Regions from separate parts of the Homo sapiens genome. Here region 1 is linked to region 2. Evidence: fine-mapped expression QTL. Tissue or cell type: testis. Region 2 holds a variant in brackets; the other region holds the start of a gene. All regions are shown on one strand. Distances are from middle to middle.

Evidence for each region. PIP is the estimated chance that this variant, and not a neighbour inherited with it, causes the effect. A credible set is the group of variants that fine-mapping cannot tell apart.
Region 1: LINC02123 starts here. The variant in region 2 is the best candidate, but not a certain one, in a credible set for the expression of LINC02123 in testis (GTEx, PIP 0.59).

The regions. Positions count from the first base shown.
Region 1 is chr5:7,345,202-7,350,367 of GRCh38, forward strand. It overlaps LINC02123 (long intergenic non-protein coding RNA 2123), which reads right to left and starts at 2,776. Exons shown (of 2, transcript NR_134277.1): 1 at 2,675-2,776; 2 at 1,785-2,567.
Region 2 is chr5:7,371,275-7,376,440 of GRCh38, forward strand. LINC02142 (long intergenic non-protein coding RNA 2142) reads left to right here and starts at 1,892. Exons shown (of 4, transcript NR_183263.1): 1 at 1,892-2,241. LOC105374645 (a long non-coding RNA gene) reads right to left here and starts at 1,820. Exons shown (of 7, transcript NR_188260.1): 1 at 1,599-1,820. The variant T/A (reference allele first, on the strand shown) is at 2,029.

The sequences.
Region 1 (5,166 bases), 26 kb before region 2:
TAGGGTATTCCAGATAGCAATAATAATGCCTTCCATTTATTGACCATCTTGTGGCAGAAATCCTTTGAGCACTTCCCTACTTCCCTAGAGTTCTTTCATGAAACACATCAGCAGCTCTGGGTATTGCCATTTGCAGAATTGAGGAGGGTATGGGAAGCTGAAGTTCAGGGACATTACTTTGCTGTGAATTTGCCACCAGAAATGGTGGTGTCCAGGACTGTATCAAAGCCATATGGCCATGAGGATTTTGCTTTGAGTAAAGTTGGGATAACTTTTAGAGTTCTGTAAGATGGGAGGATGAATTGGACCTTCCTCCTAGGGTGAGGCTTAGATGAGTTCCCACATCTCAGGACACGCAACAGGCTGGGCACAGCCACTGCTGGGTAAAGGCTGCCACTGATATTATTTGTATTATTTTGTTTTTATTATAGTTGTCATCTTGTTGCTTGTCTGTGCTTCTGAAATTACAGTTAAGTGAGCATCCAAAGGCTCTTCTCAATCCCAAAGCCCACCCCTCCGCTTCTGCCCTTCAAGTGGTATCAGTGGAGCACTGCGTGGTTAGGACTTTCGGCGTAAGAGACAATTAATCAAAGTTAATGGACACTTCTTTGTTACACAACACGACTAATGTCAATGGCAAACAAATCACTGAAAAACAATGACCAATAAACCCAACTGAAAGGTTTTTCCATTGAAAATAAAATCAACCATGCCTAATCTACTTGGATTTCAAATGAAGTCATAATTGCTTTTTGCTGAAACTACTCCAGTTACCCAATACCCTGCACCAGTAATGATTAAACAAATCTATGAACTTAAACTTGGGAATTAGTGAAGGGCTTTTCTTCGGGCAAAAAATTGTACAAACAATCCCTAGGATGTTAATCAATGAAACAAATTAACAGTCAGGAGCCCAGGCTCAGAACCTGGTGTACCATGGATTCAAATACTTGCTGTGCCACTTGGCTTCAGATCTTGAACAATTCACTGAATGTCCCATGTGCCTTACTTTGCTAATCCCTATAATGGGGATGATGATAGTACCTGTTTCATTGGATTGTTGGGCTGATTGTGTGAGTGAATACATATAAAATGCTTAGAACAGTGTCTGGCATGTAACGAGCAGTCAAAACAGGGTTGACATTATTATTATTATTTAGATGTTTCGCAAATTACTAGTTTTGTTTTTTCAAATATCTATTCTTCTAAACACTTTTTTTTTTTTCTGGTCAGGCACAGTGGCTCACGCCTGTAATCCCAGTACTTTGGGAGGCCAAGGCAGGCAGATCACTTGAGGTCAGGAGTTTAAGACCAGCCTGGCCAACATAATGAAACCCCGTCTCTACTAAAAATACAAAAAAATTAGCCAGGTGTTGTTGCGGGCGCCTGTAATCCTAGCTACTCTGGAGGCTGAGGCAGGAGAATTGCTTGAACCCAAGAGGTGGAGGTTGCAGTGAGCTGATGTCGTGCCACTGCTCTTCAGCCTGGGTGACAGAGCAAGACTCTGTCTCAAAAAATAAATAAATAAAAATAAAATAAATAAATAAACACATTTTTCTGCATATTCCTTAGAGATAATTGAGTTATGAACTGGGTAAGACTCCAAACGGAGCCCAGTTGCACCTTCGCGTCATCTATATTCCCGTTTTCACATGTCCCTCACACCCGTGCTAGGATGATTGAGTATGACAGAGACATGCCTCCCCCATGCCTGTGCTTTAGGGAACTAGCTCATCCACTTCTCCCACGGCCCCACTGAACTCTGGGCTGAGTAACTAGGCCTCTGGGGTTGGAGGACTAAAGCTCAGAAGTGGGCACCTAAAGAGGAGATTTTCTGGTGCATTCTCTTCCACCAATGTTCTAATGCAAAGTCTATCAGGAAATCTAGGTTTATATATCTCTGAAGAGTGTTTATTCAATTTACCAAAAAGAATATAAAATGTACAGTAAGTTCTTTCTAAAATATAAGTGTTTCCATTATCTTTGATGTATGAGTGAATAAAACATTGATTTAGACAATGTGGCATGTGCCCCAGAAATGGAAATACAGCATTGGTCTGGGGAAGGGATTAATATTTATTGATCACTACTATGTGCCAGACATTTTATATACAACTTATTTCAATTTCAATTTCACATCAACCCAGTACAGTAGGTTTGACACCAATTTTTTAAAAAAGACCATTTATTCTCAGAGTTGTTGAACAATCTGGACTGTATTGGACGGCGGAGTAGTGAGTTAGAGTGTCCATCACTCCATCCGGGGCCCTCTTGCCCTACCAAAACCCAGCCCCCAACAGCCCGTCCCACTGAGCAGCTGGAGTCCATCCTGTAAGGCAGCAGGCTTTTCACATGATTGCCCCGCATATCATTTGCTTTGCATCTCTTTAAATTGTACCAGTTAGTCTCCCCAGGGCCTCCCCAGATTCCAAGTAGATCCCTCTGGCAGCTCTGCTGTGCTTGGCATTACCAGCACTCTCTGAGCTGAGACTCAGCCTCTTCCTCTTAACTTGTGCAGCCAAAGTTCTCTGCACACCTCATCGGCAGGTTCATCTTCTCAGTGAAGCCTGTAGAGATGGGAAACAAGTAGATACAAAATTACATATGAATTTAGATTTTTTTTTTCTAAAGCAATAGGAAAATTTACTCATCTATTTTTCCCGTTTACCCCTACTTTAATTCTGTTTTCCCTTTCTAAGTTTACACAATAAGCAGCTAATCCCACTTGCTCTCTCTTTTGGGCCTGGAGTTCCTTAGGGCAGCTCTCTCACCCCACAAAGGAGCCAGGAGTTCTCTGGCTGCCTCCTTCCTAAGCTTGGAGGGTGCATTGCCCTGCTTTTCTTTCTATGTGGATGCTGAAATCTTCTCAGTTGTATCATGGTTGAAAGCTTCATTATTCCTTTTGCCTGTAAGAAGAGCCTTAGATTGAAACAGAATATCTAATTACATTGGAAGGAAAAATATCGACATTCATTTATAAAATATCTTCCTGGTATCTTCCTAGACAGACGTTCCGTTTAATGAACTAGAGAGCTACTAGCTTCCCTCCCATCACTGCAGAAATCATACAGATAAGATGCCAGGGCTAGCAGAGTTAAGAGGCAGTGGTTATGCAGCTCTAGTTTCCTAACATACTCGGGCTATGTTAGAATAAAAAAGTCTTTGAGGGCTGGTGCTGGCTGGGGCAGGGGCCAGCTCCGATGAAAGCACACTGCAAGCTTCAGTAGAGAAACAACAGGGGCCCGAGCACAACTTCAAAAAGCAGTTGCAAGGACTACAGATATTTCCTTTTTTTTTTTTTTTTCCAAGTTTGAGGATTGAAGCTGGAGCATCGGAACTTCAGGAAAAGAAGGAGCAGCGCAAGGAAGACTGAGATGATTTCTGATGATCATCAGAGCAAAGGAAGTGCTGAGCAGTGAATGAGGCTGTCTTAATTCTCCCACTTGAGCTTGAGAGCAGCAGTCAGGAGCTGTCTGCATCTCCTTTCATTCTCCTTTCATTCAACGTTATGTAACAGTCCCTCTAAAAGGAAACTCTCTACCTAGCTACTGAATTAATTGATGTCCTTAAGCCCTGGGGGAACCTCTGTGGGCAGCCATGTTGCTGCCTCAAAATGGGAAGAAAGAGAAATCACTCAGGGGAATATAATTTTGTATTGTTCTTCATGAGACAGGAGAGAAGAAGGGAGTGTTGGGAGTTCTGGACTGGAAGAAATGTGTGTAACTAAATATAGTAATTGCATTATTCACAGCAGGCTTATGCTGCAGTTGTATTTATTGCTGCATGAAATTTTTTTTCTATAAGATTCAGAGCCTATATTTATAGGATCAAAGTCAATAATTTTTAAAATTATTATTATCACAAAAGTATTGGGAATGCCCTTGAACTTGTTATAGTTTTAAAAGTGTAAAATTGCATTCTGATTCTGACTGAAATTAATGGGCTCAGGCACTCACTGGGGGCTCTGGAAAATACACAAAATACACACAAACTTCCATATAACTTTTAAAACAAACTCAGTATTGATAATGAGACTGCTTCACCAGATAATACAAGCAAAAGTATGGGTGTGGTAAAATATTCAGAGATTTAGGCCAGTCTTCGGGCAAGACAGCAGAGTAGGTTCTTCCTGGTATCTATTTTAAGAATCTAGCAGCAAAAGAAAATGGTAGAACCATTTGGGAATTCTTCATGGACGGTTGGCTGTGAGAAAATAACGCTGTCAAGGCTGTGCTTTGCTAAACAGGCAGGCTACCGTCCATGTGTGCTCCACACCCTGATGAAAATGATCAGAGCTCTGCCTTGACAAACGGCAACCATTCCGTTTCTATTCCATTGAAAGGCAGCCCCAAAATGGCATCTAGTGAAGAAATCAATGAAAGAATGGTGTTTTTTTAGTTGAACTATTTATTGAGATAATTGAACATTCACATGCATTTGTAAGTAATAATATACAGAGATCCTCTCTACCCTTTACTCATTTTCCCTCAATGGTAACACCTTGGAAAATTATAGTGCAATTATCACAACCAGGGTATAGACATTAATACAATCCTCCAACCTGACCCCGATTTCCTGGTTTGCTTGTATTCATTTGTATGGCGTGTGTGTGTGTGTTTCGTTCTGCATAATTTTATTATGCATGTAGGTCCTGCTTCCTGCATGCACCGCTACAATCTAGATATCTACATACAGAACAATTCTGTATGGCTTTTCCTTCTTTTAAAACCACACCCACCTTCCGTTGGCCCCACTCCTCACCTCCCAGGGCCTAAGTCCTGGCAACTACTAATCTATTCCTCTGCGTTTCTAACATTTTGTTATTTCAAAAACATTATGCAAGTGGAATCATACAGTATGTAAACTTTTGGGGATTCGCTTTTTTCACTCAATGTGTTTCCTTAGAGATTCATTCAAGTTGTCAGGTGTATCAATAGTTTGTTCCTTTTACTGCTTCATGGTCTGTGATCTGGATATATCATGGTTTGTTTAACATTTACCTTTGAAGAACATCTGTGCTGCTTCCAGTTTGGGGCTATTATAAATAAAGCTGTGATGAACATTTGTGTATAGTTTTTGGTGTGAACATAAGTCTTCATTTCTCTGGGACAAATGCCTATGGGTGCCATTACTGGGTTATTTTGTATTTTCATGCTGGGTTTTATA
Region 2 (5,166 bases):
GCCCTTCGCTACTTCCACCACCACTGTCTCCATCATCACCACCATCACCAACTTCATCACTACCGCTATCACCACCATCATTATCACCACCACCTCCACCATCACCTTCATTACCACCACTGCCTCCACCATCACCACTACCTCCACCAACACCACCACCATCATCACCACCATCACCTCCACCGTCACCACCACCACCTTCACTACCACCACTACCTCCACCGTCACCACTACCTCCACCAACACCACCACCAGCATCATCACCACCACCACCTCCACCGTCACCACCACCACCACCTTTGTTACCACCACTACCTCCACCAATACCACAACCAACGACCTCCACCATCACCACCATCACTACCACCATCACCATTATCACCACCACCTCCATCATCACCACCAGCACCTTCATTACCACCACTACCACCACCATCACCACCACAACCTCCACCGTCACCACCACCATCACCAATACCACCACCACAAGCACCAACTTCATTACCACCACCACCTCCACCACCACCACCACCACCACCTTCATTACCACCACTACCTCCACCGTCACCACTACCTCCACCAACACCACCACCAGCATCATCACCACCACAACCTCCACCGTCACCACCACCATCACCAATACCACCACCACAAGCACCAACTTCATTACCACCACCACCTCCACCACCACCACCACCACCACCTTGATTACCACCACTACCTCCACCGTCACCACTACCTCCACCACCTTAATTACCACCACTACCTCCACCATCACCACTACCTCCACCAACACCATCTTCATCACCACCACCACCATCATCACCACCCTACCACCACCTTCATCACCACCACCTCCACCATCACCATCAGCACCACCATCACCACCACTACCTCCATCATCACCACTACCACCTCCACCATAACCAACACCACCACCACTGTCACCACCACCACCTCCATCATCACCACCACCACTACCACCATCACCACCACCACCACCTTCATTACCAACACTACCTCTACCATCACCACCACTGCCTCCACCATCACCACTACCTCCACCAACACTGCCAACATGATCTTCATCACCACCACCATCATCACCACCACTACCACCACCTTCATCACCACCACCACCTCCACCATCACCATCACTACCTCCACCATCACAATCACCACCACTGCCACCATCACCACCACTACCTCCACCACCACCACCACCACCACCTCCACCATCACCACCACCACCTCCACCATCACCACCACCACCATCACCACCACCACCACCACCACCACCATCACCACCATGACCTCCATCGTCACCACCACTACCTCCACCACCCCTACCACCTCCACCATCACCACCACTACTTCCACCACCACCACCTCCACCATCACCACCACTACTTCCACCACCACCACCACCACCTCCACCACCACCACCTCCACCATCACCACCACCACCATCAGCACCACCACTACCTCCACCATCACCAACACCACTTCATCACCACCACCACCACCATCACCACTACCTCCACTATCACTACCATCATTACCACCACCACCACCACCATCACCACCACCACCTGTACCACAATCACCACCATCTTGCTGATTGGTCTTCATCCAACAGAAGGCATGTTGATTTTTCTCTCAAGGCCTCACATTAAGAGACTCAGAGAATGACCTGTGATATGATATAATTTCAGGGCTGGGTGACTAAGTCTGAGCCAGATGCAGGTGCATCAGTAAAGATCATATGCTCTACAGAAAGGGAGATGACCTCACAGATGCAGAGAGAAGCTAAGACTCACAGCGGCTACGACCTCAGAAAGGAAAAGAATGTTGTGGTTCTTGGTTCCTGATAGGCCCCTCAAGGCTGAACCTCCTCACATGTTGGAGCTTTAAAGATACAGCTGTATCAGGCCAGGCGTGGTGACTCATGCCTGTAATCCCAGCACTTTGGGAGACCGAGGAGGGCGATCGAGACCATCCTGACTAACATGGTGAAACCCCATCTCT[T/A]CTAAAAATACAAAAAATTAGCCAGACTTGGTGGTGTACGCCTGTAGTCCCAGCTACTCAGGGGGCTGAGGCAGGAGAATCGCTTGAACCCAGGAGGTGGAGGTTGCAGTGAGCTGAGATCGCGCCACTGCACTCCAGCTTGGGCGACAGAGCGAGACTCCATCTAAAAAATACAGCTGTATCAAATCTGCTTGTGCTTTGGCCATCTGAGAGGTGAGAATCTTCTGTTTTTGTTATTTGCAACCAATTCTTAAATAAGTAACAATGTCAAATCAAAATAATCATAGCATATTATTAAAACATTATGAAAATATGTAGAGATATTAAATTTATTTGAGATATAAGCTTATGTAGCAATATTTACATGGACATCACCCTTGCTTCCTATATCCAAACCAGAAAATTCATAGAGTTGACTTAATCAAAAATACAGAATTTAAATCTTCATCTATTATCTTCGAAGTAAGGGATTAAGGAAGAATAATCCTATGATTCCCTCTCTTTACTAATTTATAGTATATTGCATGATGAACACATTTGACTCTCAAGTCAACAAGGAATGAAAGAGATTAAGCAATTTCATTAGTTATCTAACTCTAAAATGAATGATGTATTTATAATGATTCAGGATGCTGATACAGTGCAAACATGTTCTTACTGCAGCCAAAGCTGAATTGGCTGGGGAGAAATTGGGGATGATCATGAGTAAAATATTTCTTCCTTCATACTTAAAGACGACAGAGAAAGAGACAACACTGTAAAGGCAGCAAGATCATCATCTGGCACTTAACAAAGCTGAAAAGGTTCAGCTGCTGCTTCCAGCAGAACTCAAAATGAAGAAGTTATTTGTATCTTATTTTTCTTTAGCTCTTTTTACCCTATACCATACAGAGGTGTTGGCCACAGGGGAATGTCCAATGAATCATCTTGTTATGTTGCAGAACACAGAGGGCTTCTCTAGATTTTTTTTTAATGGTTTTTGAGAAATAAAAGAGCGATATTCCTGACTCTTTCATTACTTCCTCACTGAGAGAGTTAACACATTTAATTTCTGCTTGACAGCTGGGCATGGATTAAGCGTGTTAAGCAGGTAATCCCTTATCTTTCAAACCTAGAGATTTCCCCAATGGCATCTCAAAGATGTGCTTACAAGGCAATGTATATTTCGTTAGTTACTTACTGAACTGGAACTTGGTTTCCCGAAGGCTGTTACCAGGTGTTTTACCAGGTGACCCATGTCAAAAATGACTTATTTCTCATTAATTCAAAATAAGCACTTGAAGCAATGCCCTGATATGTTTAAATGATGTGTTTATATTGGCATAAATAATGAATATATTCTTGTTATTGTTTCTAGTCCTTGACTTAACATCAGAATGCTTTCTTTATTTTTTTTGAAGATTTTAAAAATATATTATAAATGGAACACAGTCATTTCAGAAAATGTGGAAAGTAAAAAAAAAAAATTGTATGCATAAGTCACCAATTCTTCCACCATCCACAGTTTATCACTTTTTTTTTTTTTTTTTTTTTTGAGACGGAGTCTCGCTGTCACCCAGGCTGGAGTGCAGTGGCGCAATCTGGACTCACTGCAAGCTCCGCCTCCCGGGTTCACACCATTCTCCGGCCTCAGCCTCCCCAGTAGCTGGGACTACAGGTGCCCACCACCACGCCCAGCTAATTTTTTTTGTATTTTTAGTAGAGGTGGGGTTTCACCGTGTTAGCCAGGATGGTCTCGATCTCCTGACCTCGTGATCCGCCCGCCTCGGCCTCCCAAAGTGCTGGGATTACAGGCGTGAGCCACCGCACCCGGCCCACAGTTTATCACTGATAAGGTTTCCTTGTGTGCTTACCTTAAACATTTGAAATAATGAGTGATCAATATTTTAACTATTCATTTAATACTATAGAATAATTTTCCCAACTTTTTTGAAAACATGAACATTAAGGATAGCTTAGCTTAAGTGCTCAATCTCATACTGTCCTTTTAGATACTGAGTAACCCCTAAATGTGTGTACTTTGATCGCACTTGTACAAATTTCAGCAATCGCGCTGATTTCAGTAGATATATTATATGAATCATGTGAATAAAATTCAGTGATATCTTCACCAAGCAGAAAACGATGTCCTCTGGCCTCCTACAGTTCCTAGGATACCTGCCTCAAGCCAGCTCACCCATCCGCAGCACCACTAAATATCTAACGTCCTGAAATACCGATTCCTATGGAAACCTCACCAAATGGACAGTGAAATGGGAGGATGATTAATGAAAGATTTTACTTCTCTGATGCCTGAGATTTTCTAAACACATTTCCTCTGTTGTTTGTTCTAGAGTGAATTCTTTTAGTGTCTGAGACTACATTGATTTATGTGGCTGATGTAAACAGGCACACACATCCAATTCTGAGTCTCTTTCAGGAAATATTACAAAATGTATACTACATTCCTCGTCTCATAGATGTAGCTTGATATTTTTTATTTCTAGTTTTATTATAGTAGCATTTCTCCATTAGCCTTCAGCAGGAAATGACAGTGTACTTTTAAAATAACTTTATGTGTTAAAAGGATTTGGGTCGAGATAATTTAGAATTAAGAAGGAATAAACGTATTTTGTAAATGCAATGTTCCAAAAGCCGTCTTTGGATCCCAGCCTAAAAGACTCTGATTCTTATCACAAGCACTCTTTTTTCTTTCTTTCCTTTCTTTCTTTCTTTTTTTTTTCAATCCTGAGATAATAGCTTTCCATCTTGCTGGTCTTGGGATGCAGGTTCTACCAACTTTCAAGACAGGGTTCCATAATAGAGTTCGTTTGAAATATTCAGGGCAATGACCCTGCAAGGCCAGTAAGAACTGGCCTGTGTCCTCCTTGCCCTGCAGACGATGTGGCTGGATACATCAGAAAGATAGCTTCAAGTGCATGAGCCTGCCTGGCTCATTCTCTATATTTCTCTGATAAGGATGGGGCAGAAGAGGAAGTCAGATCAACAAAACCTACTTTTGTCAGGTCATGAGCTACTGCTAGATGCTTCATGTACCCATGAACTTACTTTATCAAACACTCCCACTTATAATTGAGGTTCAGAGAAGTTAAGATATGGCCCCAGGCCATTACAAAGAGTGGAGCAGCATCAGGGCTG